3 separate regions of the Homo sapiens genome follow, and all the other regions are linked to region 1. The links come from fine-mapping of genetic effects on gene expression. Tissue or cell type: whole blood. Region 1 holds a variant in brackets; each other region holds the start of a gene. Each region is shown on its reference strand, or each on the opposite one.

Region 1 (10,905 bases):
TTTCACCATGTTGGCCAGGCTGGTCTCGAACTCCTAACCTCAGGTGATCCGCCCACTTTGGCCTCCCATAGTGCTGGGATTACAGATGTGAGCCACCGCGCCTGGACGTGATCTCCCTAGTCTTTGAGCTCCCTTGCCTGGTTTCCCTTCTGTCCATCTGAGTCTGCAAGAGCTGGCAGTGGAAACGTAAATGAAGAGGGTGAAGGCGTTCAGTTTTGTTGCCTCTTGGTAGCACTGATGAAATCATCGATTCTCTCACGTGTTTGTTTCTTACTTGTAAATATACCTTTGGTTAGAAGATGAGTGAATGGATAAATGTTGGGATAAAGAAAGGGTCTGAAGAGACCATTTAATAATTTCATTTATCTCGGCTCTCCTGGCTCTTCCTGTTATAATGAAAAATTATGGAAATGGAAAATAAGCTATTTGCAAGATCCATGAAGGAAGATATGTAAAGAGAAAACAAGTGGGCTATAAATGCATTTGGCTCGCTACCTGCACTGAATTTGGAATTGACGTTGATTTCAAAAAAATTGAGAAATTGGAATAGGCTTGTTTTCTCTCATGACACAAGTACCAGTAAGTCAGATGACGAAGTGGAATGTATCCTCATGAAAGGAAGCATATTAAAGATAAGACCCAGCTGCTCTGCCAAGGAGTGGCTGTTCTTTATTCCTTTACTTTTCCTAATAAACTTGCTTTCATTTTACTTTATGGACTTGCCCTGAATTCTTTCTTGCGCAAGGTCCATGAACCCTCTCTTGGGATCTGGATTGGGACCCCTTTCCGGTAACATCTTCCTGGTGAACCATGAAGGGATGATACTGAGGAAACTTCCAATCCTTCCTGCAACACACACACACACACACTCACACACACACACACACACACACACAAACACACACACAAATAAAAAAGATAAAACCCAACATTTTAAATCCTTCAGACCCGCATTTCACTGGTAAGTAGAAAGTCAAGGGACACAGGGCTTGGTTTTCATGGTTTTCTCTTATTTGGGTGGAGCAAATTTCCTGATCATTCCTGTGACGTGGGAGGCAAATATTTGGACACCTTGAATGTCTGACATCATCTCCATTGTACCCTCACACTTAGTTGATAATGGGTTTGGTACAGCATTCAGGGTTGGAAATCATTTTCCCCTGGATTTTTGCTGCATTGTAGTCTAGCATCCAGGATTTGTCTTGAGAATCAAAATTATTCTGATTCATGATCCTTTGTAGAAGACCTATTTGTATCTCCCTGTCAGCTTGTAAGATTGTCTTTTGTCCTCAGTGTTTGTAAATGTTATGCGGGTGGCTTAGGCTGGGTATCTTTTCATCTGTCATATGGGCGGGTGCTCATTGGGTCCTTCGGGCTAGAAATTAATGTCTTTCAGTTCTCTGAAATTTCCTAAACTATGTCATGATGCTTTCCTTTCCCACCTTTTCCTTGGTTTCTCTCTCTCTCTCTGGAACTCTGTCTTCATATGTTGAACCCCTTGAACTAATTTTACATTTTTTTGCTCTATTTTCTCTATTTCCTCTGTTTTGTCTTCTAATTTTTCGAATGAACTTTACATTTATAACACGGCATTTTAAGCTTACAACTATTCTTTCTGTTCTCTAAATATTCTTTAAAAAACAAACAAACAAACAAACAAACAAACGTGTTTGTGCCTGGATGCCATCTCTGATTGTCTATCTGAGGATACTGATAATAGCTTCCTGTTTTATACTCTCTCTTCTCTATGCATAATCTCTGTTTCCTCCAAGTTACCTTCTTCTCTTTGTTTTGGTCACGCTCTCTCATGTCAGGGGCTTTCTTCAGCTGAGACCCTCAGTCACTGGTTTATATTTAAGAGTGGGGCATGAAAAGTTGATTGGAAGCACTAAATGTGTGATTAAGATTGTTGATTGTGGACTTCCTTGTAAAAGAATCTGGTTGGACTATTTTCCTGGGGAACTACCAATATCGGCATCTTTAGATTTTTCCTCTTGCACTGGCTTGAGCTCAAAAAAGCCCTTTAATCCTCTCTTGGAAGTGACAACCTAGACGTTCTGAAGGCCGAGAGAGAGAAGAGGGCTGGAGCAGGGCTATCGCAGGTCAATATTCCATATACAAACCTTCCCTTAATCTGCTACTTCTGTGTGGTGCCTTGACCTTCAGCTGTGCCTGGGATCTCCCCAACTAGAGACCTGGTCTCCTCTCCAGAGAATAAGCCTTCAGTTTTTTGCTGGTGTCGGAAAGGGGATTTGTGCACCTCACTACTTTGTGAGCAGGTTCCTTCTCATTTTCAGAAGTTGTGGACACCCCCAAATCCTGAGCCCTCTTTGGGTTCCGCTGGTAAACCTGGCTGCTTCTTGGCAGGAATGCCCTTAGACCTGGGCCACGGCCTCAGAGAGTGTATGTTCCCTCTTCTAGCTGTGCCCCTTCTCAGGGGCCAAGAGGACATGCCCACTCAGAGTGCGCACCTCATTCCTCCTTCTAGAACATTCTCCAGGGAAAGGAGGCCTTGGAATTCCCTGTCCAAAGGATCCCAACCCTGCTCCCTGGGCCCCGGGGCGGGGGGGCTCTTTCCAGAGCCCTCCTTCCAGAGTGGACCATGCTGCCAGTGTGAGCCACCTAGGCTGAGGAGTGGCTGGGGGCAAGGGGTTGTGGGAGGTTTGGATGGAGCCATGCAAGCTCCCTCAGGTGCAGGATGGAGCTGGGCTGGGAAGGAAGGGGAATGGGCCACGATCAGGGATCTTCCCATGTTGCTGTGTTTTGGTGCCGAACTGAGAAGTCCAAGGAGGACTATCCATTTGAACCTGCAGTTAAGGGTTGAATTGTGTCCCCTCAAAAAGATCCATTGCAGTCCTAACCTCCAGTTTCTCAGGACATGACCTTATTTGGAAATAGGTTCATTGGAGGTATAATTAGTTAAGATAAAGTCATACTGGAGTCGGGTGGGTCCTAGTCTAAGATGATGGGTATCCTTATAGGACAGCCATAGGAAGATGGAGGCAGAAATGTATCTCCAGGCCAGGGAGCGCCAGCGAGTGCCGGTCATCATCAGACACTAAGAGACAGTCCAGGAACAGATTCCTCCCAGCCTTCTGAAGGAACCAGCCCTGCAGACGCCTTCATCTTGGACTTCTAGTTTCCAGAAGTGAGAGAATAAACGTCTGTGGTCCTAAGCCGCCCAGTGTGTGTACTTTGTCATGGCACCCTAGGAAACTAACACATGGGCCTTTTACATCACCAAGAAGGTATATTTGTCAAAGCAGAGAATAGAAGGATTTTTTTTTTAACCTTTAAATAAAGTCTATGACCTTAGTGTAGAATTTTCTCTTTATGAGTGAGGGCACGTGAGCTTCCTCCGCTGCCCCTGCTCAGGCCTCCTTGAGTGCGAAGGGTGAGTTGGCTTCTTGGCTCCCCCCAATCCTGGTGTAGGGCTCAGCTGTATCCTGCGTGCTCAGCCAGCCCCCACGCACTCTTCCCTTCCCAGCCTCCGGCATTTTACCAGTGTGTTCTCCCGAGATTTTGCTCCTGGAGGTTCCGTCCCAGTGCTGTTCAATAGGATTTTCTGTGATGCTGATGGAAACATTCTTTTTCTATGCTGTTCAGTATATCAGCCACTAACCCTGTGAGGCTGCTGAGTGCTTGAGATGTGGCTAGTGTGATCTGGAAGCTGAAGTTTAGAATTGATTTAATAAAAAGGTAAATGTAGCCCGTGTAGCTAGGGGCTACCACATTCCATAGCACAAAGCTACACTGTAAAATAAAACAAAACAAAATGTTTGTCTTTGATGGATTTAGAGAGAGAATGGAAGTAAAGGAACGTGTTTCATCTGCCATCTTTACCCTAGTATCTCTTGTGTGTCTTAATTTTTATTTCAAAGAGATTTTAGAACTAAACTAGCAGTGGTGAGTTTAAAAAAAAGTCCCGGCTCTCAGATGCATAGTAGGGTGAACGCTGGTGCTTGGTTCTGTGTGCAAGGAGGCAGCTTTCGTGGCCATCCCTCTTGTCACAGGTAAGGGCAGGCAGAGGCTCTGTTCGTGGTCACAGAATGAACCTGGGGTCTTTGGCTCCTGCCAGGTAGGTTTGCAGCCTCCAGGGACCTCGCCAGGCACCCTTCATGACTCCTAAACACCAAGCGGGTGTCCAGGCCCTGCGGCCACCCGGCTGCTGGAAAACAGATTGGGTTGGTAAAAATATGTGTGTGTGTTCTCACAGAACCTGAGAAAATCACACCTCCACTTTGACAAAAAAATCTGTTTGTGCAGCTCCAATAATCACTTCCTAACTGGTGGGATAGCAGGCCATATGTCTGTGAAGTGGCTAGCTGACGAGACATTCTACCTCCGTTGCGCCTCGCAAAATACCTTTTTCTAGCAGATCAGCTCTAAAATAAAAAGAAATGAAGCCACAGGCTTCTGCTTCCAAATGATGCTTCTGAGGCAAGGCAAGACAAGGCAAGTGGTTCCTGGAGACACAGGAGTGGGGGCTTGGAAACGGGCCTGGTGGGGCTTGCGACTCCGATGTGTTTGGGGTGAGGGAAGCCAAGTAGGATTTTCAAGTTCAGGGGCTGGTCCCGTGTTGGGGGAGAGGTCCCTACTGAATGGCGAAGGAGCTGTCTGCAGAAAGTCGGACTTGTTTGGGGGTTTGAATTTTGGAGGAGACCGCCCCCCGGCCGCCCCTCCTGGCATTCCAGCTCTTGCAAGGTGTCTAAACACCTTGCGCTCATCTCGCACCAGTTGTGAAATTCCATCAGGCTTGAATAATCATAGGAAGCCGCTCTGGCATCCTCATGACCTAAGGCAAGCACATCTCCATGTCTGTGTGTGTAGGGGCTTCCCTTTGGACTCCCCTCCGGGCCCGCCAACCTTTTTTGAGTGTGTGGCTCACAAATTTCACCTTGGAGGTGACCACCGTCCCTCGGAAGCTCATGTACACACAGAAAAATGGCAGTCCCTGGAAGGAGCTTTTCTTCTCCCTGCATCCTTTCCCCAGAGTCAGCTGGAAAGATCTAGAACGACAGACACCCTTCCCCGCCATGCTGTTTCTGGAACAAGCTTGTCTTTCCACTATTCACTTTGCTGCCTTAGGTAGAACCACATGTCATGTGTCTTGCTTTTCTCATCTGTGACTCCAAAGGGTAGTGTCAGAAAAGATCAAGTTAAGAAATGCAAAATCATTTTAATAAAGTTATTGACTTTTGTGCCCATTTCAGTATCATATTTAAAAATTCACATTATGGAAATAAATCTGGGTTTTCAGTTTGCTCTGTGCAGTACGCAAGATGCCTCATTCCCTTCCCTTTTTTAAGCGTTTGACATTATTTTATGGCCTGAATTCAATGACTATTCAGAAGATCTGAGAAGCAAACTTTACCTGTTGGATTTTTCGTTATCCAACAGGGAGGACTTGATAAAGGAGGATGGTCTGTATTTGTCAGAGCAGGTGCTGTGGTTGTAGCCAGTCTTGCCGACTGCCATGAGCTGTTAACACTTGCTCATTTTTAAAGTCCTGCTCAAGTTCCGTCTGTGCCCCAATCCCAGGAGGTGTCTATGGAGCCCTGTGACTTTGCTCTTGTTCATGCATCAGATTTCTGATGCTGCTGGTGATCGGAGGAACAGGATGCTCATCTAGCGCGAGCTCACTGACCACGGTGGGAGCAGGAGCTGGAGCTGATGGGATGGAGAAGGGAGCCCCGGCGAGAAGAAGGAGAGACAATTTACTCCAGAACCCGGCAGAGACACTGGCATGCAAAGGTTAGGCCTGGGTCCCCAGGCCCTGCGTCAGTGTTTCTTTCTTGATCTCTTCCAGCAGGAGGGA[G/A]TCTCCCTGTGAACTCCCTCACACATTATCTGCTCCTCTCCCTGGCACTTACCAGTTATCTGTCTGCTGCAGATGAGTTATTTCTGAACTTGCCTTATCTTGCTCCTGGACTGCTTTAGCTCCTGAAGGGTTGCGACTGTCATAAACACTTTGTTATCTTCTTCGGTGCCCAGCCAAGGGCCTTGCACCAGGGCCACGTGCAGAGGGCACAAACCTCTGGTCCCTGGGCCATGGGGCTGAATGGTTTCTGACACCAGCAGGCTGGCACACTGGAGAGGCTGCGGCAGCCCTAGTTGGCTGCCATCTTAGGGAATTGGAAGCCTCTGGGGTGGGGTCGGGGGAACGTTGCTCTGGGAAGGTCTTGGCAGTTGGAGGTTTTCTTCTCCATCTCTCACCATGCCCTTTGCTCCTTGGGGTTAGATGTCTCTGCACCAAGTGCCACCTCTCTCTGCTATATCTTCTCCAACCTCCCCTCTGCTGCGCTTTTCTGCCATCTCTCTCTGTTTGGCATGAGCATCTCTCAACTCAGCATCTCCCTTACCTCCCTCCTTCCCTTCTGGGCTGGGCTTCTCCCGGGGACACCCACTGCACCTTTTATGTCTCAGACCATGGTATTGGTGCCCGCCCTCCATCCCCTGACCCGGCTTGGCTCTGTATGCCCCTCCAGGGCCTACTGTGTGCCACATCCAGGGCGTGCATTTGGTCTGCATCAGACTTGCCTGTTGATCAGCATCTTGGCATTGATCACCCTCTCCTCATTCTTCCCCTTCCCGAATAGCAGACTCTTTCTGGCTCCTTCACCGGCTCCTTCTCCTTTTCTTTTCCTTGTGCATTAGTGTCCTTTGCCCTGCACACTCCAAGGCACTCCCAGACACTCTCTTTCCTTCCACAAGACATCAGCGACCACCTGGAGGCCAACAAACCCAAGTCCACAGCTCTAGCCTTTTCCCTGATGCTGCTTCATGCACGTATTGCAGGGGGTTCCTGCTTGTTGCCTAAGCTCATCAAACACACTTGTCTAAGATAGAAGTACTGACTTAGCACCCAGCATCTCCTGCCACAGTTAATGGTGCCACCATTCACCTGGTCATCCAGGAAGTCACCCCTAGACTCCTTTCTCTCCCCCAGTCCTGCTCATTCTCCAAGTGCCCCAAGTCCTCCTGGCGTAGTCAGGTGGGCTAGGTCATGCTGCTGTAACAAATATCCCTGCAATCTCAGTGGCTGAACACAGTGTCTGGATGGCCGGGCTGGTCTTCTGGCAACTCACCTCTAGGTCACCACTCTGGGATCTCGTCTAATTCGAGCTGTAGCTCTGCCATCTGGAACCAGTACTTCTGAATTTGCTGCAGAAAGTAAGAGCAGATGAGAGGGTCCTGCAAGATGTTAAGGGCCAAGCCTGAAATGGGTTACATCGTTTCTGCCCCATTCTATTAGTCAGAACTCAGTCCTGCGGCCCCTCAGCTCACTGCAAAGGAGGCTGGGAAATGCACTCCGGGAGACGGTCTCCTCCCCGCGTGCTCAGGGAGGGGAAGGGATGTGGTGCCTCTGCAGTACTGCCGTTAGGGCCCTGATCATCTCCTGTTGGACTTACGAGTCTCCTTGCTTACAGCCTCTGTCCTTCCAATCTAGCTTCCTCCCAGCAGCAGGAGCAGCCAGTCATTCTAAGCTGCGGATCTGACCACACCACCTCCTGCTAAACCCCTTGCTCTTGGGATAAAGTTGTGGCTGGACCCTCTCAACCTCTCCAGTCACATTTCTTACCACCCTCCCCAACACAGCCTTCTCCCCAGCTACAACAAACTCCCCACATTTCCCCAAACAGGCAGTATTTCACAAGGCTCCCCTTGTCCCCTCTTTGCCAACAGGGGTTGTCCCTTCCAGAACAGGCTCGGATCTGTGTTCCGGAGTCAGCTCCCCAGGCCCCCCTAGGGTTCATCTGTGCCCACCCACTGTAGGCCAAGTCTCGGGCTCCCCATGCGGGGTTTCCAAAGCCCTTCATGTGCCCTCATTAGGATACTCTTGGCATTGTTAGTTATTGCTTTTCAGAGGGTCTGACTTCACCCACAAGCCAGAAGGGTAAAGCCTTACTGTGCGGCCTCCATTGTGCCGAGAGCACCACATGCTTTACTCACTGGAGCCTTAACATCACCCTGTGAGAGGCACTGCTAGGGCTTCCATGTAACATCATGGGGAACCAAGGCACAGAGATGTCAAGGAACTTGCCCAAGCTCACACAGCCAAGTGGTGGAGGCAGGTTGGCTCCAAGTCCACATGTGTGACTACTGTGCTACAGGGCCTATGACCCACAGCCCTCAGCCACATGGCACCTTCATCTCCGTCTCTGCAACCCAGAATGCTGGTCCAGAGTGCATGGACACTCACAGGCAGTTGAACACACATGAGCAAGTTCCATTTTAAAGCTTTCTTTTACTCTGTCCTCTGCCTACTTCCATCCATGCTTCCATTAGAAATTCCCCCTATGGGCCGGGCACGGTGGCTCACGCCTGTAATCCCAACACTTTGGGAGGCTGAGGTAGGTGGATCACCTGAGGTCAAGAGTTGGAGACCAGCCTGGCCAACATGGCGAAACCCCATCTCTACTAAAAATACAAAAAAATTAGCTGGGGGTGGTGGTGCACACCTGTAATCCCAGCTACCTGGGAGGCTGAGGCAGGAGAATTGCTTGAACCAAGGAGGCAGAGGTTGCAGTGAGCTGAAATTGCGCCACTGCACTCTAGCCTGGGTGACAAGAGCAAAACTTTGTCTCAAAAAACAAACAAAAAATCCTCCCTATGGTTTCCTTCTCAGTTCAGTTCAGGAAGCAAGAAAATAAATCCATGAGACTCTCATTAGATTTTTTCAAACAAAGTAACTTGATCTTATCCCTGGAAGGGAGCACCATGCCTCGGACACAGTTACTCCAGAGATCTCATCCCTGCCTCAACTATTCTGAATGGCTTCTTTGGGAGGTGGTTGCAGAGACAGCTTACTGATCACACAGGAAAATGATTGCCATGACCTTCTATCACTATCTGCGCAATACAAACAACATCAAAGGGACTCTCCCATACTGTGTCTACTCATGAAAAGGGCTTTGCCAGCATCTCTTTAAGTAAGTGTGCAGAAATGATGTCCTTCAAAATCCCTGTTCCCCACGTGGTTGCCGTGACATGGAGACGCAGAGGGGGACAGTGTTGCTGCTCAGGGCTGCCCTGACAAAGGGCCGCAGACTGGGGGCTCCAACAACAGAAGTCTGGCTTCTCAGAGCCCGGAGGCAGGAAGTCTGAGATCTAGTTTTGGTGGGTGTGCTGCTTCTGAGGCCTCTGAGTGTGGCTTGGAGGTGGCTGCCTTACCCCCTGTGTCTCCCCGTGGTGTTCTCTCCATGTGTGTCTGCATCCTAATTCCTTTATTTTTATTATTTTGGAGAAAGGATCTCACTATGTTGCCCAGGTTGGCATGCAGTGGCACAATCACAACTCACTGCAGCCTTGACCTCCCAGGGTCAAGTGATTCTCCCACCTCGACCTCCTGAGTAGCTGGGACTGCAGGTGCATGCCGCCACACCTGGCTAATTTGTATATATATTTTTTTCCTTTAGAGATGGGGTCCAACAAAGTTGTCCAGGTTGGTCTTCAACTCCTAGGCTCAAGCAATCTGCCTGCCTTGGCCTCTCAAAGTGCTGGGATTACAGGTGTGAGCCACTGTGCCTGGCCTTAATTTCCTCTTTTTAAAAGGACACCAGTCAAATTGGATTGGAACCCACCCTAATGACCCTATTTTAACTTAATCTCCTCTTTAACAAACGTTTCTCCAAATGCAGTGACTTTCTGAAATACTGGGGGTAAAGACTTCAACATATGAATTTTGGGGGTCTCAATTCAGCTCCAAACAGGCCCTAATGGAAGCTCTGGTCACTTGCTGCTCTGCGTCCAGCACCTCCGTGACCCTGGATGAGTCCTCGCTCGCTGGGTTTCAGTTTTCTTATCACCAACATGGTCGGGGGGTGGTCAGACAAGCTTACCCAGGGCCTTTACAGCTTGAAAACTCCGCAGTAACCTATAAAAGCATCACTCCAGGAAGATATATTGCTTTTGTGACCCAGGCAACACCACAAGGGCTTTCAGCGTTCAAGGCCATGCATCCATAGTGTGCTCTGATGTTTCTCAATATTTGACGACAAACTTTATGATCGCTGTTGGCAGGTTAGACATTTCTCCTTGGTTTGAAAGTAACAGCAGCGTGGTCTCAGTGGGAAACGTCCTCAGAGAAATGTTTGATCTTTTCTGGTGTGTTCAGTTCCGAGGTGGAAGACCCCGACCACTCATTGAGGGAAGGGAGGTGTCTGATACTTTTTAATCAAACAAAGGCATTTTCTTTTCAGGGTGTCTCTCTATACAAACACCTTTGATAAAAGATCTTGATTTGATCTTTGGTTAAAGATCAAAGCCCAAATAAACCCACCAGGGAATGAAAAAGATCAAGGACAGCACAACCCTCTTCTTGTGGGCACAAAGGCGGGCTGGCTAGCACTTTGCACTGCTTGGCCAGCCAGGAGCCCATCTGTGACTTCCAGGATCCCAAGAGTCACACAAGGCTGTGGGAGCTTCAAAAACAAGCCTGAAGCAGAGGCCCTTAGCCCATCCTCAATCGGGCAGCAGTGTGGTAGGGTTGGTATTCTCCCCGGAGCTCTGCCTTCTGCTTTGCCACACGATAGCCGTATTGGACCTGGCTGGTTTCCTTCCACTGGCGTGGATGGAGAGGAGAGGCACGGCCCCCAATGGGACCAAGGGTCCCCTTCATAGTCTCACCTTGAATGAGTTGCTTTAGCCTTCTCCCTCCTTCTTGAAACTGGTCTTCAAATCCAGCTCTACATATTTGCACAGTGACATGGTTTGTCTGTGTCTCCACCCAAATCTCATCTTTAATTGTAGCTCCCGTAATTCCCATGTGTCCTAGAAGGGACCTGGTGGGAGGCAATTGGATCATGGGGGTGGGTTTTTTCTGTGCTGTTCCCGTGATAGTGAATAAGTCTCAGGAGATCTGATGGTTTTATAAAAGGGCAGTTCCCTGGCACACACTCTCTTGCC
Region 2 (10,178 bases), not on the chromosome of region 1:
GGGGGCGGAGCAGGCAGGGGGTGGGCCGCGTGGAGGCCGCTGTGGACCTGGAAGGACCGACCTTAACCAGCGAGTAGACGCTCAGCCCGGACTAGGAGCCCAGCCAAGGCGCGAACTCTAAGGCCTGTGAATATGGGAAGGGCTTTGACCCTCGTAGGGGCTGGGGCTCCAGGGGGTGGGCCCAGCCTGGCGGGGAGGCCAGCCCTCAGCGGAGACCCTGAGTGAGGATAGCTTGGGTTTGTCCCCAGGACCCTGGAGAGCCATGGAAAGTTCAGGGCAGGTGAGGGACGTCCCCGATCTGGTGGTTTGGGACTGAATGTGTCCCACATGACTGACAAGGGGTGTCTGATACCCGCAGGGACACTAGCAGCGGGAACCAGGTGGAGGGCACCTTGCAAACGCCACAGCCTCATTATTATTATTATTATTACTGATTTATGTATTTATTTATTTTTTTGAGACAGAGTTTCGCTCAGGTCGCCCAGGCTGGAGTGCAGTGGCTCCATCTCGGCTCACTGCAAGCTCCGCCTCCCTGGTTCACGCCATTCTCCTGCCTCAGCCTCCCTAGTAGCTGGGACTACAGGCGCCCGCCACCTCGCCCGGCTAATTTTTTGTACTTTTAGTAGAGTCAGGGTTTCACCGTGTTAGCCAGGATGGTCTTGATCTCCTGACCTCGTGATCCACCCTCCTCGGCCTCCCAAAGTGGTGGATTAGAGGCGTCAGCCACCGCGCCCGGCCTTTTATTATCATTATTGAGACAGGGTGTCGCTCTGTTGCCTAGGCTGGAGTGCAGTGGCATGATCTCGGCTCAAAGCAACCTCCGCCTCCCGGGTTCAAGCAATTCTCCTGCCTCAGCCTCCCGAGTAGCTGGGATTACAGGTGCCTGCCACCATGCCCGGGTAATTTTTGTATTTTTAGTAGAGACCAGGTTTCACCACGTTGGCCAGGCTGGTCTCGAACTCCTGACCTCAGGTGATCCACCCTCCTCGGCCTCCCAACGTGCTGGGATTACAGGCGTGAGCCACTGCTCCCGGTCCAGCTAATTTATTTTTAAATTTTTTATTTTTTATTTTTTTGCAAATAAAGTTTTTTTTTTAATTTTATTTATTATTTTATTTTATTATTATTATACTTTAAGTTTTAGGGTACATGTGCACAATGTGCAGGTTAGTTACATATGTATACATGTGCCATGCTGGTGTGCTGCACCCATTAACTCGTCATTTAGCATTAGGTATATCTCCTAAGGCTATCCCTCCCCCCTCCCCCCTTAAATTTTTTTGTAGAGACAAGATCTCACTAGGTTGCCCAGGCTTGTCTTGAACTCCTGAGCTCAAGCAGTCCTCCTGCCTCAGCCTCCCAAAGTGCTGGGATGACAAGCATGAGCCACCCAGCCTGGTCAGCACAACCTTGACTCCATAATCCCACAGCTGGAAGTGTACCCCAGGATGACATCCAGGAGGTTCCCCCAAAGTCCATCCTGCAACAGAGTCCAAGACATTTGGTCATCATGGAGTAATACACAGCGAAGAAAAAGGTGCTTCCATTTGCATAAAAAAAGACAAAAAAGGGAGGAAAAAAAATGAATAGGCCGGGCACAGTGGCTCATGCCTGTAATCCCAGCACATTGGGAGGCCGAGGCAGGTGGATCACTTGAGGTCAGGAGTTCCAGACCAGCCTGGCCAACGTGGTGAAACCTGGTCTCTACTAAAAATACAGAAATTACCCGGGCTTGGTGGAGGGTGCCTGTAATCCCAGCTACTTGGGAGGCTGAGGCAGGAGAATCACTTGAGCCCAGGAGGTGGAGGTTGCAATGACCTGAGATTGCATCACTGTAGGCTGGGTGACAGAGCGAGACTCTCTCAAAAAAAAAAAAGAAGAAGAAGAAGAAGAAGAAGGTACAGACAGGACAGGCCCAGGCCCCTGAAGGGAAGCCCTGGAACCCAGAATGGGAGGAAGGCCCAGGAAGTTCTCTGGAGTTGCCTCCCTCTCTCACGAATAAATGTTCAGGTCCATTCTTTGAGCATCTACCCTTACCCTGTGCCTGATGGATGGGGAAACCACTCATTCCCGATGCCCAGCTCCCCTGCCAGTCACTCCTGATACATCTCTCCATTGTCCTTTTTCACCTCTTTGCACATTTATCTACAGGAATCTCACAGTGCACGCTTTTTTGAGTCCATCCACAGTTTCTCATCCTTTTCTTTTTCCTCCTTACTCTTTCTTTCTTTTTCTTTCTTTCTTGCTTTTTTTTTTTGAGACAGCATCTCGCTCTGTCGCCCAGGCTGGAGTGCAATGGCACAATCTCGGCTCACTGCAAGCTCTGCCTCCTGGGTTCACTCCATTCTCCTGCCTCAGCCTCCTGAGTAGCAGGAACTACAGGCGCCTGCCACCATGCCCGGCTAATTTTTTGTATTTTTGGTAGAGATGGGGTTTCACCGTGTTAGCCAGGATGGTCACAATCTCCTGACCTCATGATCCACCCGCCTCGGCCTCCCAGAGTGCTGGGATTACAGGCGTGAGCCACTGTGCCTGGCTATTTTTTTTTTTTTTTTTTTTTTTTTTGAGACAGAGTAGTCTTACTCTGTGGCCCAGGCTGGAGTGAAGTGGACGGCTCCCTGCAACTTTTGCCTCCCATGTTCAAGCGATTCTTGTGCCTCAGCCTCCCATGTAGCTGGGACTATGGGTGCATACCACCACGCCCGGCTAATTTTTGTAGTTTTAGTAGAGATAGGGTTTTGCCATGTTGGCCAGGCTGGTCTCAAACTCCTGACCTCAAGTGATCCACTGGCCTTGGCCTCTCAAAGTGCTGGTATTACAGGTGCGAGCCACCGTGCCCAGCCTCCCTCTTGCTTTATTTTATTTTATTTTATTTTTTTGAGATGGAGTCTCGCTCCTCGCCCAGACTGGAGTGCAGTGGCACGATCTCGGCTCACTGCAAGCTCCGCCTCCCGGGTTCACGCCATTCTCCTGCCTCAGCCTCCCGAGTAGCTGGGACTACAGGCCCCCGCCACCACGCCCGGCTAATTTTTTGTATTTTTAGTAGAGAGGGGGTTTCACTGTGTTAGCCAGGATGGTCTCGATCTCCTGTCCTCGTGATCCGCCCACCTCGGCCTCCCAAAGTGCTGGGATTACAGGTGTGAGCCACCGCGCCCGGCCCTTTCTTTTTATTTTAGAGATGGGTTTTCATCATGTTGCCCAAGCTAGTCTCAGACACCTGGACTCAAGTGATCCACTGGCCTTGGCTTCCCAAAGTGCTGGGATTACAGGCGTGAGCCACCACGTTGGCCACCAGGCCTAATTTTAGAGAAGAGTAAACTGAGGCTAAGCAGGGGAAGGGGTTGCCTAGCCGAGGCTCCAGGGCTGGGAGGGGCAGGTGGAAGGAAGGCTCGGGCAGTTTTAATTTCCGCCATCCTCTGCCTCCAAGAAGAACGTCCCCTCCCTCGTCGATGCTCAGGCCTTAGTTTCCCTGTCCGTGTCTCCTCGCCTCCCTGGGCTGGATTCCTGGCTCAGTCCGCAGCCCGGATCGGGACGCAGGGTTGTGGTTGAGTTTTCGACCCCTCGCCTAGGTGTCCCTCCTTCCCGGAGCTAGATTTCTGGGTGTAGGGATCGTGGCCGGCCCCGCCTCCCGCCTCAGTCTCCCCGTTCGTCCCCCCAGGGGCTGGATCCCGGCCCCGCCTGCCTCGGTTTCCCCGTTCGTTCCCTGATGGCTGGATCCCGGCCCCGCCTGCCTCGGTTTCCCCGTTCGTTCCCTGTTGGCTGGATCCCCGCCCCGCGCGCCTCGGTTTCCCCGTTCGTCCCCCCAGGGGCTGGATCCCCTCCCCGCGCGCCTGGGTTTCCGCGTTCGTTCCCGGCAGCCGGGAGGTGGGCGCCCCCGCCCCGCCGCGCAGCCCCAGGCCCCGCCCCTGCCCGCCTCCGGGCGCCCGTCACTTCCTGCCCGGCCCGGTGAAGGCCCTGCCGGGCGGCGGCGGCGGCGACAGCGTGCGAGCCATGGTCGCGCTGGAGAACCCCGAGTGCGGCCCGGAGGCGGCGGAGGGCACCCCGGGCGGGCGGCGGCTGCTGTGAGCGCGGGCGGGCGGGGCGCGGCGGGCGCCGGGGGCGGGCTGGGCTCCCTCCCCTGAGATCCTCTCCCCGCCTCCCCTCCCCTCCTTTCCCTTCCCTCCCCTCGTTCCCTTCGTTCCCCTCGCTCCCGTTGCTCATCTTCCGGGGCTTCAGCCTGTCCTGCCTTCCCTTCTCGCCCGCTGTGGACCCCCAGGCTGGGTGGGGGGTCTTCATTGTTACTCAGCGGGGACACCCTCCTGGCGCTCCGGGGGCTCGCTGGGGGAGGGGACCCGGATCCACGTCCCCATTTACCTGTTCCGCCCCCTACTCCCCGGTCCGCCCCCTAATCCCCGGTCCGCGCCCCACTCCCCGGTCCGCCCCCCCACTGCACTGGTCCGCGCCTCCATTCCCGGGTCCACCCCCTCACTCTCCGGGTCCGCCCCCCAACTCCTCGGTCCGTGCCCCCACTCTCCGGTCCGCGCCCCCACTTCCCGGGTCCGACTCCCCCCACTCCCGGGTCCGCGCCCCCCCACTGCCCTGATCCACGCCCCCACTCCTGGGTCCGTCCCCCCACTCCCTGCTCCACCCCCCCACTCCCCTGGTTCTTGCCCCCATTCCTGGGTCCGCCCCGCAACTCCTCGGGTCAGCCCCCCAACTCCTCGGTTCCACCCCCCAACTCCCTGGTCCGTGCCCCTACTCTCTGGTCTTCGCCCCCACTCCCGGGTCCGCGCCCCCACTCCCGGGCCCGCCCCCCAACTCCTCTGTCCGACCCCCCCACTGCCCTGGCCCACGCCCCGACTCCCGGGTCTGTCCCCCCACTCCCCAGTCCGCCCCCCAACTCCCTGGTCCACCCCCCCCACCTCCCCGGGGCCGCGCCCCCACTCCCGGGTCTGTCCCCCCACTCCCCGGTCAGTCCCCCAACTCCCTGGTCCGCCCCCCACACTCCCGGGTCCGTCCCCCCACCTCCCCAGTCCGCCCCCCAACTCCCTGGTCCACCCCCCCCCCCACCTCCCCGGGGCCGCGCCCCCACTCCCGGGTCTGCCCCCCCACTCCCCGGGCCCCGAGGTGCCAGCCATGGAGCCTCCCGCCAGAGGGTCCTGGGCCCCTGTCCGCGGGTCGGGGTTCACCCACGTGGCCATGCGCTCCAGCCTGGTCCCTGCCGCACGCCCGGCCCCACTCGCCCTCTGGGCTTGTCCGCGCCCCCTGCCTTTCCGGGCAGACCCGGCTCCTTGCTCTCCTTTGGGTAAATCCCTACAACCCTTGTGGGTTAAAACCTGGCAAGCAGGAGCCCGCGCGTCCTTCCCGGGGGACCCGGAAGCGGGGCGGTCTGTGCGGGGGTCAGCCGTGTGTCACCCCGGCCCGCACAGGGACCCGGGGACCCAGGGTGCGCCCCTGGGGTCCGTGTTGGTGGAGGGCGAGGAGGCGGCGCGTGTTCCGTTCCTGCCTCCTCCGTGTGCGGACGGCGCCACCTGGGCAGGTTATTTCATGCTTCCATGCCTCAGTTTCCCCTTCTGTAAAATGGGATAGTAAGTGTGGCCTCTTCTCCGAGTGGTGGGGGTTACCGAGCTGGCACTGCGGCGGGCCCAGCAAACAGGAGTGTCCGTTGTCTCATTACTAATTATCGTTAATGTTTTATTGGTTATTTTAGTAGTATTAATATTTTGAGACGGAGTCTCGCTCTATCGCCCAGGCTGGAGTGCAGTGGCACGATCTTCATTCACTGCAACCTCCACCTCCTGGGTTCAAGCGATTCTCCTGCGGCAGCCTCCCCAGTACCTGGGATTACAGGCGCCCGCCACCACGTTCAGCTAATTGTTGTATTTTTAGTAGAGATGGGGTTTCATCATGTTGGCCAGGATGGTCTTGATTTCCTGACCTCACGATCTGCTTGCCTCGGCCTCCCAAAGTGCTGGGATTACAGGCGTGAGCCACCGCACCCGGTCTTTAGTATTATTTGTATTTATTTATTTATTTGTTTATTTTTTTGAGACAGAGTCTCACTCTGTCGTCCAGGCTGGAGTGCAGTGGGGCGATCTCGGCTCACTGCAAGCTCCGCCTCCTGGGTTCACGCCATTCTCCTGCCTCAGCCTCCCGAGTAGCTGGGACTACAGGTGCCCGCCACCGCGCCCGGCTAATTTTTTTGTATTTTTAGTAGAGACGGGGGTTTTGCCGTGTGAGCCAGGATGGTCTCGATCTCTTGACCTTGTGATCTGCCCGCCTTGGCCTCCCAAAGTGCTGGGATTACAGGCGTGAGCCACCGCGCCGGCTAGTATTATTTTTAAATGATCATTTATTACTATCATCGTTATTATGTTTATTATATCATCACTATTATCTCCACTCAGAGGCCATACCCATCTCTACCGAGGTGATTTGTATCTGAAGGAGAAAGGATGCGTCTTTGATTGGTTGATTGGTTAATTGATTGGAGACAGAGTCTCGGTCTATTGGCCAGGCTGGAGCAGAGGATGCTTTTTTTTTGTTTTTGTTTTTGTTTTTCATATTAGAGACAGGGTCTTGCTAACTTGTCCAAGCTGGTCTCAAACTTCTGGGCTCAAGCCATCCTGCCTCCTCGGCCTCCCAAAGTGTTGGGATTACAGGCGTGAGCTACCACGCCCGGCCTAGTAGTAGTATTATTAATACAGGGTCTCACTCTATCACCCAGGTTTGATCACAGCTCACTGCATCCTCCACCTGCGGGCTCAGGCGATCCTCCTGCCCCAGCCTCCCGAGTAGCTAGGACCACAGGTGTGCACCACCATGCCGGCTATTTTTTTTTTTTTGAGATGGTTTCGCTCTTGTTGCCCAGGCTGGAGTACAGTAGTGCGATCTCGGCTCACTGCAACCTCTGCCTCCCAGGTTCAAGCGATTCTCCTCCCTCAGCCTCCTGAGTAGCTGGGATTACAGGCATGTGCCACCGCACCCAGCTAATTTTGTATTTTTAGTAGAAACGGAGTTTCTCCATATTGGTCAGGCTGGTCTCGAACTCCCAACCTCAGGTGATCCACCGGCCTTGGCCTCCCAAAGTGCTGGGATTACAGGCATGAGCCACTGCGCCCGGCCTGGCTAATTTTTTAATTTGTTGTAGAGACGAGGGTCTTACTATGTTGCCTAGGCTGGTCTCGAACTCCTCGACTCAAGGAATCCACCTGCCTTGGGCTCACAAAGTGCTGGGATTACAGGCGTGAGCCACTGCACCCACGTAACGTCTCCTCTAAGGGGGCCTTGAACCACCTGGTGTGGGCATTTACCCTCAAAATGGGCTCTTCTTCCTGAGTCTTCTGTTTTTTTTGTTTTTGGTGGGGGTTGGGGGGACAGGTTCTTGCTCTGTCACCCAGGCTGGAGTGCAGTGGCGCGATCTCAGCTCATGGTAACCTTTGCCTCCCAGGTTCAAGCGATTCTCCTGCCTCAGCCTCCTGAGTAGCTGGGATTACAGGCATGTGCCACCACGCCTGGCTAATTTTTGTAATTTTAGTAGAGACGGGGTTTCACTATGTTGGTCAGGCTGGTCTCAAACTCCTGACCTCAGGTGATCCACCTGCCTCGGCCTCCCAAAGTGCTGGGATTGCAGGCGTGAACCACCACGCCTGGCACCCTGGTCTTGAAGCCCAGGTGTAGTGACTCCTATGTAACTATGTAAATACACTCATGTTTCCGCTCTCAGCCGTCAGTCTCTGGGTGTTTACCTGCCAGCTGTGTCCTGGTGGGGGGTTGGGGACTGCTGGGGGCCGCCGCAGTCTGCCCCACCCCAGGCTGAGTCACCTCCGCCCTGAGCCCTGGCTTCCTGATGCACAAGTCGGTTCCTCTCTTGCTGTCTCTAGTGGGTTCCTGGGGGAGGGACCAGTGCTGGGAAAGGTGTGTTTTTGCTCGAGGGACTGAGGGTTCACAGTTCCCCTCTCAAAATCTGCAAGGAGTAGAATTGGGAGTGGCCGGGAGGCCTGTTCCCCCAAACTCCAGCAGCTCCCCAGCTTGGGCTGCCCCCCTCTTCTGTGGACACACATCCTCGAGCCTTCAGGGTCCAGGAAGCCTCAGATACCCCCGCTGGGTCCTCAGTTTCCTCGTCTGTAAAGTGGTCTTGTTGAGTGGCGTGGGAAACAGATGAACCAGCCCTTGGGAGGTGTGTCAACAGAAGTTTAGTTCTTCATTCAACAAACAGGCAGTGAGCGCCGCTGTGGGCCGGTCACAGGCCAGGACCGGGGGGCGGCGGTGGGCGGGGGGCGGACCCTGTCTTGTTCTGTGGGCCTAGTGAGCTAGTGATTAAGGAGCAAAGAAGTAAACGGGCCGGCTGGGGCCGGTTGGTTTCCAGAGCTTCCTGGTAAGGCTGACTGGGCTAGGTGGGGGGCGGGGCCGTTCCTGGGGGTGGTGAACACAGAGCTGAGGCTGGAATGAGCAGGTGCATCAGGCAGAGACCGGGGCTCCCTGAGTTTGGAGCACTGTGAGGAGGGGCCTGTGGCTGGACGTGGGATTTTTTTATTTTTTATTTTATTTTTATTTTTTTTGAGACAGTCTCATTCTGTCACCCAGCCTGGAGTGCAGTGTTGTGATCTCGGCTCACTGCAGACTTCATCTCCCAGGTTCAAGTGATTCTCCTGCCTCAGCCTCCTGAGTAGCTGGGACCACAGGCGCCCACCACTATGCCCAGATAATTTTTTTGTATTTTTAGTAGAGACGGGAGTTTCACCATGTTGGCCAGGCTGGTCTCGAACTCTTGGCCTCAAGTGATCCACCTGCCTCAGCCTCCCAAAGTGCTGGGATTAGAAGTGTGAACCACTGCGCCCGGCCAGGCATGGGGATTTTGATGTGGTCTTCCTGTTCCTTCCATTTCTGGAGAGGAGTGTCGGTGACTCCCAGGCCCCCCTGTCTACCCCAGAGGCCAGATGTTTTTTTGTTTTTGTTTTTGTTTTTGTTTTTTTGGGAGACAGAGTCTTGCTGTGTCACTCAGGCTGGAGTGCAGTGGTGCGATCTCAGCTCACTGCAACCTCCACTTCCCAGGTCCAAGCGATTCTCCTGCCTCAGCCTCCCAAGTAGCTGGGACTACAGGCGTGCGCCACCACTCCTGGCTAATTTTTGTATTTTTGTAGAGACAGGGTTTTACCATGTTGGCCAGGATGGTCTCCATCTCTTGACCTCATGATCCGCCCGCCTCGGCCTCCCAAAGTGCTGGGATGACAAGCTTGAAGATGTTTCTTAATTTCCTGCTGGAAACTGGTTGAAGTCAGCCAGCTCCATCTGATGGTGGGACTCGATTTCCAGTGCTCAGCTCAGCACTAGAGACCCAGGGGAGGGTGGCGAGCCCTCAGATACCAAACAAAACAGGCGAAAGCCCTCGTGTTGCAGTGCTAGGCCAAGGGGGAGCCAGGCCTGGCCCTGGGATGCTGGGGAGCCATGGGCTGTGCTGGAGCAGGGGAAGGACCAGGCAGGTCCTTGTGGGCCTGGAGGAGAGGCCTGTGGGGCTTTGGTATGAGGGGTGGTGAGGGAAGCAGGGTAGCTCTGGGGTTCTGGGTCAGACCCAGGTTCACATCCAGCTCCTTGCATTGTCTGGGTGGTGACGGGGGACAGCCCCACCTCTCCAAGCCTCAGATCCTTCATCTGTAATATGGGGTGATACCAGGCCCCTTGCTGGGAGGGCTTGAGCTGTGTCACCGAGCCCCGCCCCCTCTGACTTCCCCGAGGGCTCCCCTCGGATGTCACTTCTGTTATCGGCCCTGTCCAGCTGCTGGGGTGGAGAAGTAGGCCCCGGGGCCTCAGGGGGGGCTGTGGGTGAATCTGGGGCATGGGACAGAGTGCTCCGGCCTCAGGGAGGCAGCTTCAGGCTGATCCAGCTTCAGAGACGCTGGCTTAACATGACCCTGTATTCCCACTGAGTACCCGTCGGCTGCTGTGCTCTGTGCTGAGGGCATGGTCCACCACCTCCTTCTCCAGCTGCCCTCTTTGCAGCAATGGGAGCTTGGGCGGTGACTTTGTGCCTTGGTTTACAAATCTGTATAATGAGGGCCGGGCGTGGTAGCTCATGCCTGTAATCCCAGCACTTTGGGAGGCTGAGGCAGGCGGATCACTTAAGGTCAGGAGTTCAAGACCAGCCTGCCAACATGGTGAAACCCCGTCTCTACTGAAAATACAAAAATTAACCAGGCGTG
Region 3 (10,905 bases), not on the chromosome of region 1:
GGGAGGCCAAGGTGGGCGGATCACTTGAGGTCAGGAGTTCAAGACCATCCTGGCCAACATGGTAAAACCCCGTCTCTACTAAACATAAAAAAATTAGCCGGGCATGGTGGCATGCAGCTGTAATTACACTTACTAGGGAGGCTGAGGTAGGAGAATTGCTTGAACCCAGGGGGTGGAGGTTGCAGTGAGCCGAGATCATACCACTGCACTCCAGCCTGAGTGACAGGGCAAGACTCCACCTCTAAAAACAAAAAACAAAAAAACAGAGAGACATGTCTGTCACCCAGTCAGTAGCAGGCAGGAACAGTGCCAGATAACTCAGTCTCCCACTGCTCTCTCCCAGCCCTCTACCTGGCTTTCTGATTGCACTTGTCACTAGAGGTTGCTACAGTTACACCTGATACCATTAGATTTTCCACAATTAGGAAGCTTAGACTATATGACTTGGTAGTGACTATATTTGACCTGTCAGATCATGGCTGTTTTCCATTTAGGGAAAAGGGAAGCACTTTGTTTAAACTATATATATATATATATATATATATATATATATTTTTTTTTTTTTTTTTGAGACAGAGTCTTGCTCTGTTGCCCAGGCTGAAGTGCACTGGCACAATCACAGCTCACTGCAGCCCCTGCCTCCAACGTTCAAGTGATTCTCCTGCCTTAGCCTCCCAAATAGCTGGGACTACAGGTATGCACCACCATGCCTGGCTAATTTTTGTATTTTTAGTGGAGACAGGGTTTCGCCATGTTGGCCAGGCTGGTCCCGTACTGCTGACCTCAAGTGATCCACCTGCCTTGGCCTCCCAAAATGCTGGGATTACAGGCGTGAGCCATCGTGCCCAGCCTAAACTATATATTCTGAGAAGAGGGACTGAACCCTACAGAGTTCTCTCTTAATACAGAGTCTTGGGTACAATTAAGCACTAGGTCCATAGTGCTGTGCTTTTCTTTCTTCCTTTCCTTCCTTCCCTTCCTTCTTTCCTTCTTTTTTCTTTCCTTTCTCTCTCTCTCCTTCCTTCCTTCTCTCTCTCCTTCTTTCCTTTTCTTTCTCTCCTTTCTTTCCTTTCTTCTTTTCTTTTTATTTCTTTCTTTAGTTGGTTGTTTTCTGGCTAAAAATTAGACAAGAAAAAATTATTTCCTCTAAAAATAGGTATATTATTAGCCAATAACACAGCATATTTTTCTGCTGGTTTTACAGATAGCTAACTGCCCTTACTAAACAACATCAAATTTGCAGTGGCATTTTTACATATACTTAATATTATTCCTGTAGAAAGAAACAAAAACGTGTAGTTGGTCTACAAGAACATTACCAAAGCAAACCAGACTGAAAAGAGCATTCATCCCTTTTGCTACAGTTTCAACACATGACACATGACTGCATTTTGCAGCCAGGACCCCTCAACACCTGGATGTACAGAGCCTCCACTGAACTACCAACACCACATTTGTGGTCTTGATTTAACTTTAATTGATAGAACTAGCTGGCATTTGCCTCTAAATGCCAGCAGTGGCTTTCCAGTGTAACTTGGTGATTCTTGTCTGTCAAAAACTTTGCAGTCAGTCCTGGTTACCTTAGAGATGCCTTATGTCCCAATGCACCTTCAGGGAATGGCACCCTGCTCATTGCTTCTGTTTAGCCAAGTCCAGAGGATGTGAGCATGGTTCCCACTGACAAGAGACAGTTTGCTGGAGTTAAAACAAACTACAAAACTCAGCCTGTGCAGGATTTGGGGGCCACATTTTTATATCTCAATTTAAAAAGTAAGAGAAATTAATTCTATAGATTGGTAGCAATTAAGGAAAAGCCATATTGCTGTTTTACTTTATAAGTTAGGTCAGTTTTGCTGTTTCCTTAGTTCCTTTTTACTGAGCTTTGTCAAGGTATAGCAAGGACAGCTGACTGGGCTCTGCACCAGTGAACTTTCATGAACACCACTCACTCCATGGCATCAACTGGTTTTGTGCCTCAAGCAGGGTAGGGGATGTGTGAGAAAGGACAAAGGCAGATATCACAAAGACTTTTTCAAAGACTTAACATGAAACATTTTTTTTTTACTTTATAAAATACTGATTTTTTAAAAGAACATATTTTATTAGAGTCAATCTCACCATTCTTTGTCATAAAGATATTTTATCTAACTCAAGTTTTTGCATACCCATTTACAGTCAATTCCATTGTTTTGCTTGAAGTGAACTTTCTATTATATTTTTCTAGATTATGTAAGCGAGCTGATTATGCAACTAAGAGTGTGGTAAATATAAGAATTATTATAGGATCACCATTTTTACACGTGACAGCTCTGGTTGTTTGTGGAGTAACAAAGGGAATATGAAAAAAAAAAAAGTTCGGGCCTGCCCTGGATTCAAGTTTATCATTCCTACACTTGATTAAAACACCTAAATTTAATCCATTTTACAAATAGCCATGGGTCCTCAGTCCAGATATAAAAGGAAATTAGATTTCAATTTAAAACAAGCTACAAACAGTGGAAAACCAGAAAACACTAAAATAAGACACTGGCTAAATAACTACAACAAAATCTCACTTCTTAAAAATCCACGCCTAAAAAAAAAAATCCACTAGACAGGAATGTGTGGCAGTGCAGAAAGGCAGAAGACTGAAGCGCACGTTTGATCTAATTGTGTAAGAGCTTGCTAAATCAGTTACTACTTGAAAGTATACTTCAGAGAGAAGACTGAAACTTCTAGACTGTTTCTAGCATCCTTAAGTAACTGCAGACACTTATAATACTGAATGATATCCTAGTTATAAATAATTCTTATCCATAACTTAAATCCATCTTGAGGCTCTACTAAGTAAATCTTCCTTAACCTACTTAGAGGATGTGCAGTAGCGATGAAAGTAGCCTTTCTTTTCTTTTTCTTTTTTTTTTTTTTTTTGAGACGGAGTCTCGCTCTGTCGCCAGGCTGGAGTACAGTGGCGCGATCTCGGCTCACTGTAACCTCCTCCGCCTCCTGGGTTCCAGCGATTCTCCTGCCTCAGCCTCCCGAGTAGCTGGGACTACAGGCGTGCGCCACCACTCCCACATAATTTTTTGTATTTTTAGTAGAGACGGGGTTTCACCGTGTTGGCCAGGATGGTCTCAAATCTCTTGACCTCGTGATCTGTGTGCTGGGAGTACAGGCGTGAGCCACCGCGCCCGGCCTTAAGCCCCTTTCTTTAAGGCTCAAGGGCATATTTTCACACTGCAGTGCATCACAACCGTTTTCATTCTTCCAGTGTTCCTTTCTTCTGGTCTCCAGCCACCTGCCAGGTACTTCTGATTAATTACATATAAGATTTATCCAAGCCACCCCCTCCGTTTCTACCAACTGGACTTCATTCTCTTCAGTTCCTGCTAGAATGCACCTCCTACCTGAAGTCTTCCCTCATCAATGCCCTCCATGATCAGCCTTTGACTCTGGAATCCCTTAATATATTCCTCAGATCATTAGAGGTTTTCTGAGTCATCATCTGAGATTTTTCATTAAATTGTGGAGTTTGAGCAGCCAGTCCTGAGCTGTCGGACTCAGTTCCAAATAGAAGTCCTAGTTAAAGACACAAAAACAAGAAGATGGGTTAGCTGCGGCTCGAAGAGCTGGTGAGCGCGACCACAGGGCAGCTTGCGGACGGTTCTTTCGGACAGGACAAGGGCGAGGGAAACGGCAGAATGGTGACGCACCTGAGTGCGCCCACTAGACGAAAGAAGACCAACTAAGCCTTCGTGTAGTGCGTAGACAGGCCGACACACACACACACACACACACACACACACTAACACACACGCAAAGACAGTGAGGGAGCGAGAGGCGCATCCCCAGGTAGCTGACAATGACACGGCCCCGATCCGGACGCGGGCTTAAAGCCCCCCGACTTCCGGAGTGCCCCCCTCCCCGGCGACCTCCGGAGATTACCGCTGGCGCATCTCTCCGCCCTGCCCGGCTCCGGCGCCCTCCCCTCCCCCCGCAGCCGCAGCTCCCCGCCCCCCGCGAACGCGGCTCCCCAGTGTCCTCCAGAACGCCCGCGTGGCTGTCGGGTTTCGAACCCCAGGGCCGACTCTAGTACTCGGCGCGCGCGCCGCCGCGTCGCCGACCAGCCTGCGGCCCCCGCATCAATCATTAACGGGGCGGCCCGGGCTGCGGCGGCCCGAGGAGGGGGATGGTACGGAACTCGAGACAGGGGACAACTCTATCCCCCGAAGCGGCCGCGAAACCCTAGCCTGGGAGGCCCCCGCCCTTCCTCGGTGCGCCCGTCCCTCCCTCCGCGCCTCGGCTCGCACATCCCCACCTCCCGCTCCGGGGGCGGCGGCGGCGGAGGCACCCGCACCGCGCGATGCCCAGTCACCGCTGCCGCGCTGCCGCCGCAGTCAGCCGCGCCGCCGCCGCTGCCGCAGCGCGGGCGGCCGCGCGCCGGTAGCAGGGGCTTGGCGAGGAAGCCGCTGAGCCTCGCGCGCTCCGCGCTCCTGGCGGTCGCAGCGCTGCCTATTAATTGATTCTCTTATTGATTTATTTAATTTTTAGGAGCGGCTGCTCGGAGGCACGGGTCTTCTCCTAAACCTGCAGCGACGCCCCCGGCGTGGGCACAAAGGCTCCGACGGCGGCCGGCGGGGGCTGCCCAGCGCCCGGGAGCCGGCGCCAGAGGTCGCCTGCGCGCGCCCTAGCCGAGCCCCGGGCACCATGCCGCGGCGCCTGCAGCCCCGGGGCGCGGGCACAAAAGGCCCTCCGGCCCCGGCCCCGGCAGCTTCGGGGGCCGCCCGGAACTCCCACTCTGCCGCCTCCCGGGACCCCCCAGCGTCTGCCAAGCCGCTGCTGCGCTGGGACGAGGTGCCCGACGACTTCGTGGAGTGCTTCATCCTGTCGGGCTACCGGCGTCTGCCGTGCACGGCCCAGGAGTGCCTAGCCTCGGTGCTGAAGCCTACCAACGAGACGCTCAACTTCTGGACGCACTTCATCCCGCTGCTGCTGTTCCTGAGCAAGTTCTGCCGTCTGTTCTTCCTGAGCGGCGGCGACGTGCCCTTCCACCACCCGTGGCTGCTACCGTTGTGGTGCTACGCGTCGGGAGTGCTGCTGACCTTCGCCATGAGCTGCACGGCGCACGTGTTCAGCTGCCTGTCGCTGCGTCTGCGCGCCGCCTTCTTCTACCTGGACTACGCGTCCATCAGCTACTACGGCTTCGGCAGCACGGTGGCCTACTACTACTACCTGTTGCCAGGCCTCAGCTTGCTGGATGCCAGAGTCATGACTCCATACTTGCAGCAGCGCCTGGGCTGGCACGTGGACTGCACGCGCCTTATCGCCGCCTACCGCGCCCTGGTGCTGCCTGTGGCCTTCGTGCTGGCGGTGGCTTGCACTGTGGCCTGCTGCAAGAGCCGTACCGACTGGTGTACCTACCCGTTCGCGCTGCGCACCTTCGTCTTCGTCATGCCGCTCAGCATGGCCTGCCCCATTATGCTCGAGAGCTGGCTCTTCGACCTGCGTGGGGAGAACCCCACACTCTTCGTGCACTTCTACCGCCGCTACTTCTGGCTGGTGGTGGCCGCCTTCTTCAACGTGAGCAAGATCCCCGAGCGCATCCAGCCGGGTCTTTTCGACATTATCGGCCACAGCCACCAGCTCTTCCACATCTTCACCTTCCTCAGCATCTACGACCAGGTGTACTACGTAGAAGAGGGCCTGCGCCAGTTCCTCCAGGCGCCGCCTGCCGCACCCACTTTCTCGGGTACTGTGGGCTACATGCTGCTGCTGGTGGTCTGCCTGGGGCTGGTAATCAGGAAGTTCCTAAACAGCTCCGAATTCTGCAGTAAAAAGTGAGCCTCCGCCTTGGAGGAGACTACTGGTTCGCCCATCTGTTTGGAGTTTCTGTTGTTGCTATTGTTGGTTTGTTTTCAAATTTCATTGTGTTTTCTTCTTTGCTCAAGGAAGGTGCTGCAAAACCATAGGGAAAAAGTTCACTGCTACAAAGGGATCCCAACCCACTGGAGGCTTTGAAGTAGGGAGGTTGGCAGGGGTGGTCAAGCGGGAGGGAGATAGTCACTTGTTCTTGCCCCTGGAAAAAATTCAGGTGATGTCTTTGACATCCAGGGATTTCTCAAAGGCAGTGAGTAAAATCCCAAATAAAGCCCCAAAGAGTTTGCTTTTCCAATCATCTGTGCCATTGGTAATAAGGAGTAGCCCCTGTGAGGTCAGGTACACAGTAAAGAGGGTAAATAGAATCCTTGGGAACTTCTGTTTCAGTCTGAGGAATGCTTGGATTTGTCAAAAGAATGGAGCTTTGTAGGAAACAGGCACAAAGACGCAAACCCAGGGCTTAACCTGCTAGAAAATGCATGGAATGTGAACACAAGTTAATTATTTCAAAATGTTTTTCAGATGTTATTTAAATAGTAATATATACATTGATTTTTCATAATTTATCAAAGCCTGTGGTACGCACTGAATTTTCTTTGTCACATAGTTTTGAATTTCACAGCCTTCTGCATTGCATACACTTGAACTGGACATCAGGGGAAGCTGCTTGAGAGTTCTCAATTACTTTCTTAAACAGTGTTTTCTGAAGGCGTGTGTCATGATACAACTGTGAATTCTACCTTAGGGACTCTGGTTAAACTATTGGTGAGGAGCTCGAGTGGTTTGTATAGACCCCAGATTTTTGTTTACTTTAATGTATTCCACAAAACCCATCCTGGTTTTTGTTAGTTTGTTTTGTTTTTAATCTTTTTTTTTCCTTCTCTACTTATTTAAATTGCCACTGGAATAAATGTGCCTTTTGAAGCAAAGTCCAAATGACTGGTCCTCAAACACAGTTTCTTACATGGGGAGAGTAGTAAGAATAAGCTTTTCTTACCTGACTGAAAATCAAGGTTTCATGGTCCATCCAGGAGGGCAGAAGATGGTGTTGGTTTCAAGTTTTTGGTGGGATTGGAGATAGCTTACAGGAGCGTGCAGAGCATTTGGGTTCCCAACAAGGACAAAGAGCCAACCCTCTAATGTAGATGTGTTTCTAATGCAGCCATGGGAGAAGTTCTAGACTGATGCCATCCATCCTTGCTTAAAATTAAAAACATAATATCCAAGAATAAACAAGGCAGTTTTATTATGAAAGGCAGGAGCACATTATTGAGTTGTCACTGAAAATTTTGAGTTAAATAAGATTACACTTGCCTAGTTAAACGCTGAAGTTTGATTTGGTTCCAGACTATGGAAATGATGGGCAGTCACCCTAAATCCTTGAAACATTCATGAGCATGTCCCTGAGATCCTTTCTAACAAACAGATTAGCCAATGTTATTTAGACATTTCTTACAAATGCTAACCTGTAATTGAGATGGCCACTCTAGATTAACACAAACCACTGAGATGACTTGTTTAAATACTTACCACACTTCCTGGTAGGTCATTTTGTTAGAAGCCAAATAAGTCATTGATTGGGAGTTTTTTTTGTTTTGTTTTGTTTGGAGACATGTGTGCCTTTACTGGCTCAGCAGGAGGAGTGGGTGGCCCTCATACCCAGCCAGCTGTACTTCACTGGCTTGTAGGTGATGGAGAGCTTGCCCAGGTAGTGGTGGCTTATCTTGGGCTTGATCTCCACTGCCTAGTTGAAGGTCTTGGGCAGGATGATCATGTCCCACAGGTGCATCTTGATTTTATGATATAACTTAGATCATGCATATGAGGTAGATGAACACTTACCTCAGCACTGGTAGGCTGGCACTTCTAAAACAATTGCTGGTTTTGTTTATGCTTTTAATCACTTCTCTGTAAACAGAGAAGCTCAGCACAATTCCCTGGAGGAACCGGTATCCTTGTGTGTGTTACTTTGCACATAGAAGTTAAATTTATATATGTCTATATTTAATTTAGAATCTCTTACTGAGATTGTAAATACACTTTGCACAGTTGTTGACGAGTGTCAGTGTCTCATCCTTTGTGAAGTGCAAGGAGATTCCTGTTAGGTTACAGAGGCTAATTTGTACTTACAACAGATGTTATTCCTCAGCTGTAACTTAATTCAATAGATGCATTCAAGGACAACTGTGGAAATCAGGATATTTCCACATGCAAATTTATTTGCATGTCATTGTTGTTTTTTCTAGAGCCCCAAAGAACATTGGTTTGGAAGCTAGAGAAACAGGGTGAAGCGTATTATGTAGTTTCTTTGTAAAATGGGACCTCAATTTCAGAAGGAACTTTCAGGAGGAAGACTTCTAGCAAGGATTAATGAGTTTGAGAACAATAACTAAAACACCAAATTTGTCATTTTAATTTTTTGTTGTTCTTCCAGGTCCACAGACAGAATTCTCTTCTTGTCCTTTGTCTTTGACCTTAAGGAGAGGCCACTTAAGGATAAAATTATACCCATATCATTTTTCAGGTGATTATGCTGCATGAGTACAGTGAGATGACACACTTTTTGCCACACAGGTTTCAGCACCCAGTATGTCCCAGAGAGAATGAGGATTCACTTTCCTCTTCCCTTTGCCTTTTCCTTCGTCCACTGTTCTTTCCTATTCCATCTTAGATTTTGTAGACCACATATAATAATGACAAGAGGACATTCTAGTTGAAAACTGGTTTGGCTTCACTTCATGTTTGCAAATAGGTACCATATACACTAGTCAAAGCCAGGGATGATTTGTTAAACTATACAGTTTATTTGCTGAATTTATTAAATTTCTTGATGTTTTAGAAGTGAATATTTACTTTGAATCTCCCCATTTGCACGGAACTATCCAGGTTTATTACACATTTCAAGGTAATGTGGCAATCAGAACAATATATATTTTAAAATATTTTTCACACTTTCCATTTTGCCACATTAAAATTCAGTTTTACTTTATTGTGTTCAGCTGTTTGAAATGTAGGACAAATTATAAATAAGAATTCAGTCCATTATCTATGTACAACCTATTTTGGCAGTAGAATTTTGAAGCATATTATGTAATATGTTTCATTTTTACTTGTTAGTCATGATCTGGATGACATCTCAAGGAGCGGCGCCATAGAGTCATGCCTGGAAAATGAAGGTGTTTGACTTCGGTGCCTGTCACCCCGTGGGTTGGTCTCTGGGGCTGACTCAGACTGACTTAGTTGGCTAATGGGGTTCCTTTCTTCCCTGCCGTTCTTGCAGCTCAGGTGAAGAGGATGACCTTCCCAGAGAGAGGAAATGAGTTCCTCGGTCATGTCATGACTGGCTTGTAAAAATAAATGTGAACTTTTCCACTAGCCATACACTTTCTATAAATAGCCCAGGGAGAAAGTATGGGGCTACAGAGCTGGACAGAGTGGCCTTCATATGTTTCCATTCATAAATCCAGCTTGTAAGTGCTTGCAGTCAAAAAACAATTTAGCCTAATTTATAGTGATACTTCATAGGAATCATTTCTAAGAATGCAAAATTTTGGGACAGAGGTGATTTATATCATTTTTTCCTGATTTGGTGCCAACTCTGAGGACTAACAGCAATAATAAACAGGAATTTTTATCTTTAAATCTCTTCATAACTTTAATTAGTTAATCTGCACAAAGCTATAATAGGAGACAGGTATGGTGGGAGTTATCTCCATTTCAAAGCTTTATAGTTGGTCCAAGGTGACAGGATTAAGTTTTCAAACTGGCATTAGAATGCGGAGACCATTGTCTGCTCAACTGTGTTTACTAGTTTGCATGGCTATGATGCCTGGCCAAGCACACAGACACTAATTGGAAAAAGAGATATAGATACAGTCCCTTAATTGACTAACTTTAAAATTGAGCAAAGTGAGATAGGGCTGTCTTTGAAATTAGATCAAAATATCTCAAACAAAATGTTATCAGCCACTTAAAATGGTTGTTACCATCTTGTTCTTCAACTGTTGAAGTTTACCACTGCTGACTTCACTCTGTCAGCAATCTTTGAGCTGTTCATTCATGCACTCATATCATACCTTTCATGATCTTTGAGCACCTACTGTGTGTAAGACATTGGGCAAGGACCCATCCGTATTATTACAGCCATTACCCTTTTGTCTTCTGGTGGAAGAGAGAAGCCCCAGAAAGTCTCTCTGGCCAGGAACCAAACTCTGACCTTGGCTGTAGGTAGAATGCCGTAAGTCCCTGAGTTTGGGTCTCTTTTTTTGCTAGCATAAGTGCAATCCATAGAATCTTATTTCTATTCACATGCTGACTTCCTCAGCAATCAATTTCTTTCTTTTTTCTTTTTCTGTGTGCTCCTAGGCCTATTGTTAAAAATAACTTGAAAATGTAATGTACAATCCAAGTGAGGGGATAGTCGGCATATGTACAGAATTGAAAAACTTATCACTAATATTATGAAAACACTAATAACGATAACTATTGGAAGATTGATAGTATTCATACTATTATGAAGAGTGGATCATCCAAAGTGCCTAAATTGAGATGTCTTTAAGTGTCTGAATTTTATAGTGTAATAAAACAAACAAACAAACCAATCACATACATAAGAAGGTAAATGGCTAGATCTCCAAAATTAACTGAGATTAACTAATGCTCTCTAGCCTTTTAGGATCTTTGTGTTGTAACTTATGAAACATGTCTTAGAAAACATTAATCTGGAGGAAATCATTAAAAAGTGTCAGAGGTAAAAAAGATAGGAAGAATGCATGGGAAGGGGAGAACAAAGAGGATTAGAGTCAAACAGTCAGAATGGGGCAGCAAGTTCAACTGTGCAGTCAGCCTGAGTTTTAAATTTTGTCCTTAGAAAAGCATGTGAACTCCCAGGGTGTTAGTGTTCGAGTAGACAGGCAAGGAATTCTGTTTGTCAGCTTAACCACATCTTGTAGCGTTTGACCTGAGCACGAGTGTCCAGGTATATTTTGAGTGGTACATTTATCTCCTGGCTTAAAGCCCTTACTTTGTTTCCATAAAATTAGGACAGAG

The links. PIP is the estimated chance that this variant, and not a neighbour inherited with it, causes the effect. A credible set is the group of variants that fine-mapping cannot tell apart.
Region 2: R3HDM4 starts here. The variant in region 1 is the best candidate, but not a certain one, in a credible set for the expression of R3HDM4 in whole blood (TOPMed, PIP 0.80).
Region 3: PAQR9 starts here. The variant in region 1 is the best candidate, but not a certain one, in a credible set for the expression of PAQR9 in whole blood (TOPMed, PIP 0.71).

The regions. Positions count from the first base shown.
Region 1 is chr2:8,610,967-8,621,871 of GRCh38, reverse strand. The region is part of intron 1 of LOC105373411 (a long non-coding RNA gene); the gene reads left to right. Among named protein-coding and RNA genes, the nearest start is that of LINC01814, 33 kb to the right of the region's middle. The variant G/A (reference allele first, on the strand shown) is at 5,819.
Region 2 is chr19:906,970-917,147 of GRCh38, reverse strand. It overlaps R3HDM4 (R3H domain containing 4), which reads left to right and starts at 3,929. Exons shown (of 8, transcript NM_138774.4): 1 at 3,929-4,061. The coding sequence starts at 3,991. RefSeq lists silencers at 1-74, 3,772-4,111 and an enhancer at 7,585-7,879.
Region 3 is chr3:142,957,118-142,968,022 of GRCh38, reverse strand. It overlaps PAQR9 (progestin and adipoQ receptor family member 9), which reads left to right and starts at 4,349. Exons shown (of 1, transcript NM_198504.4): 1 at 4,349-10,905. The coding sequence starts at 4,687. The coding sequence ends at 5,820. PAQR9-AS1 (PAQR9 antisense RNA 1) reads right to left here and starts at 3,965. Exons shown (of 5, transcript NR_125393.1): 1 at 3,925-3,965; 2 at 3,387-3,558. RefSeq lists a silencer at 5,135-5,320 and an enhancer at 8,516-9,715.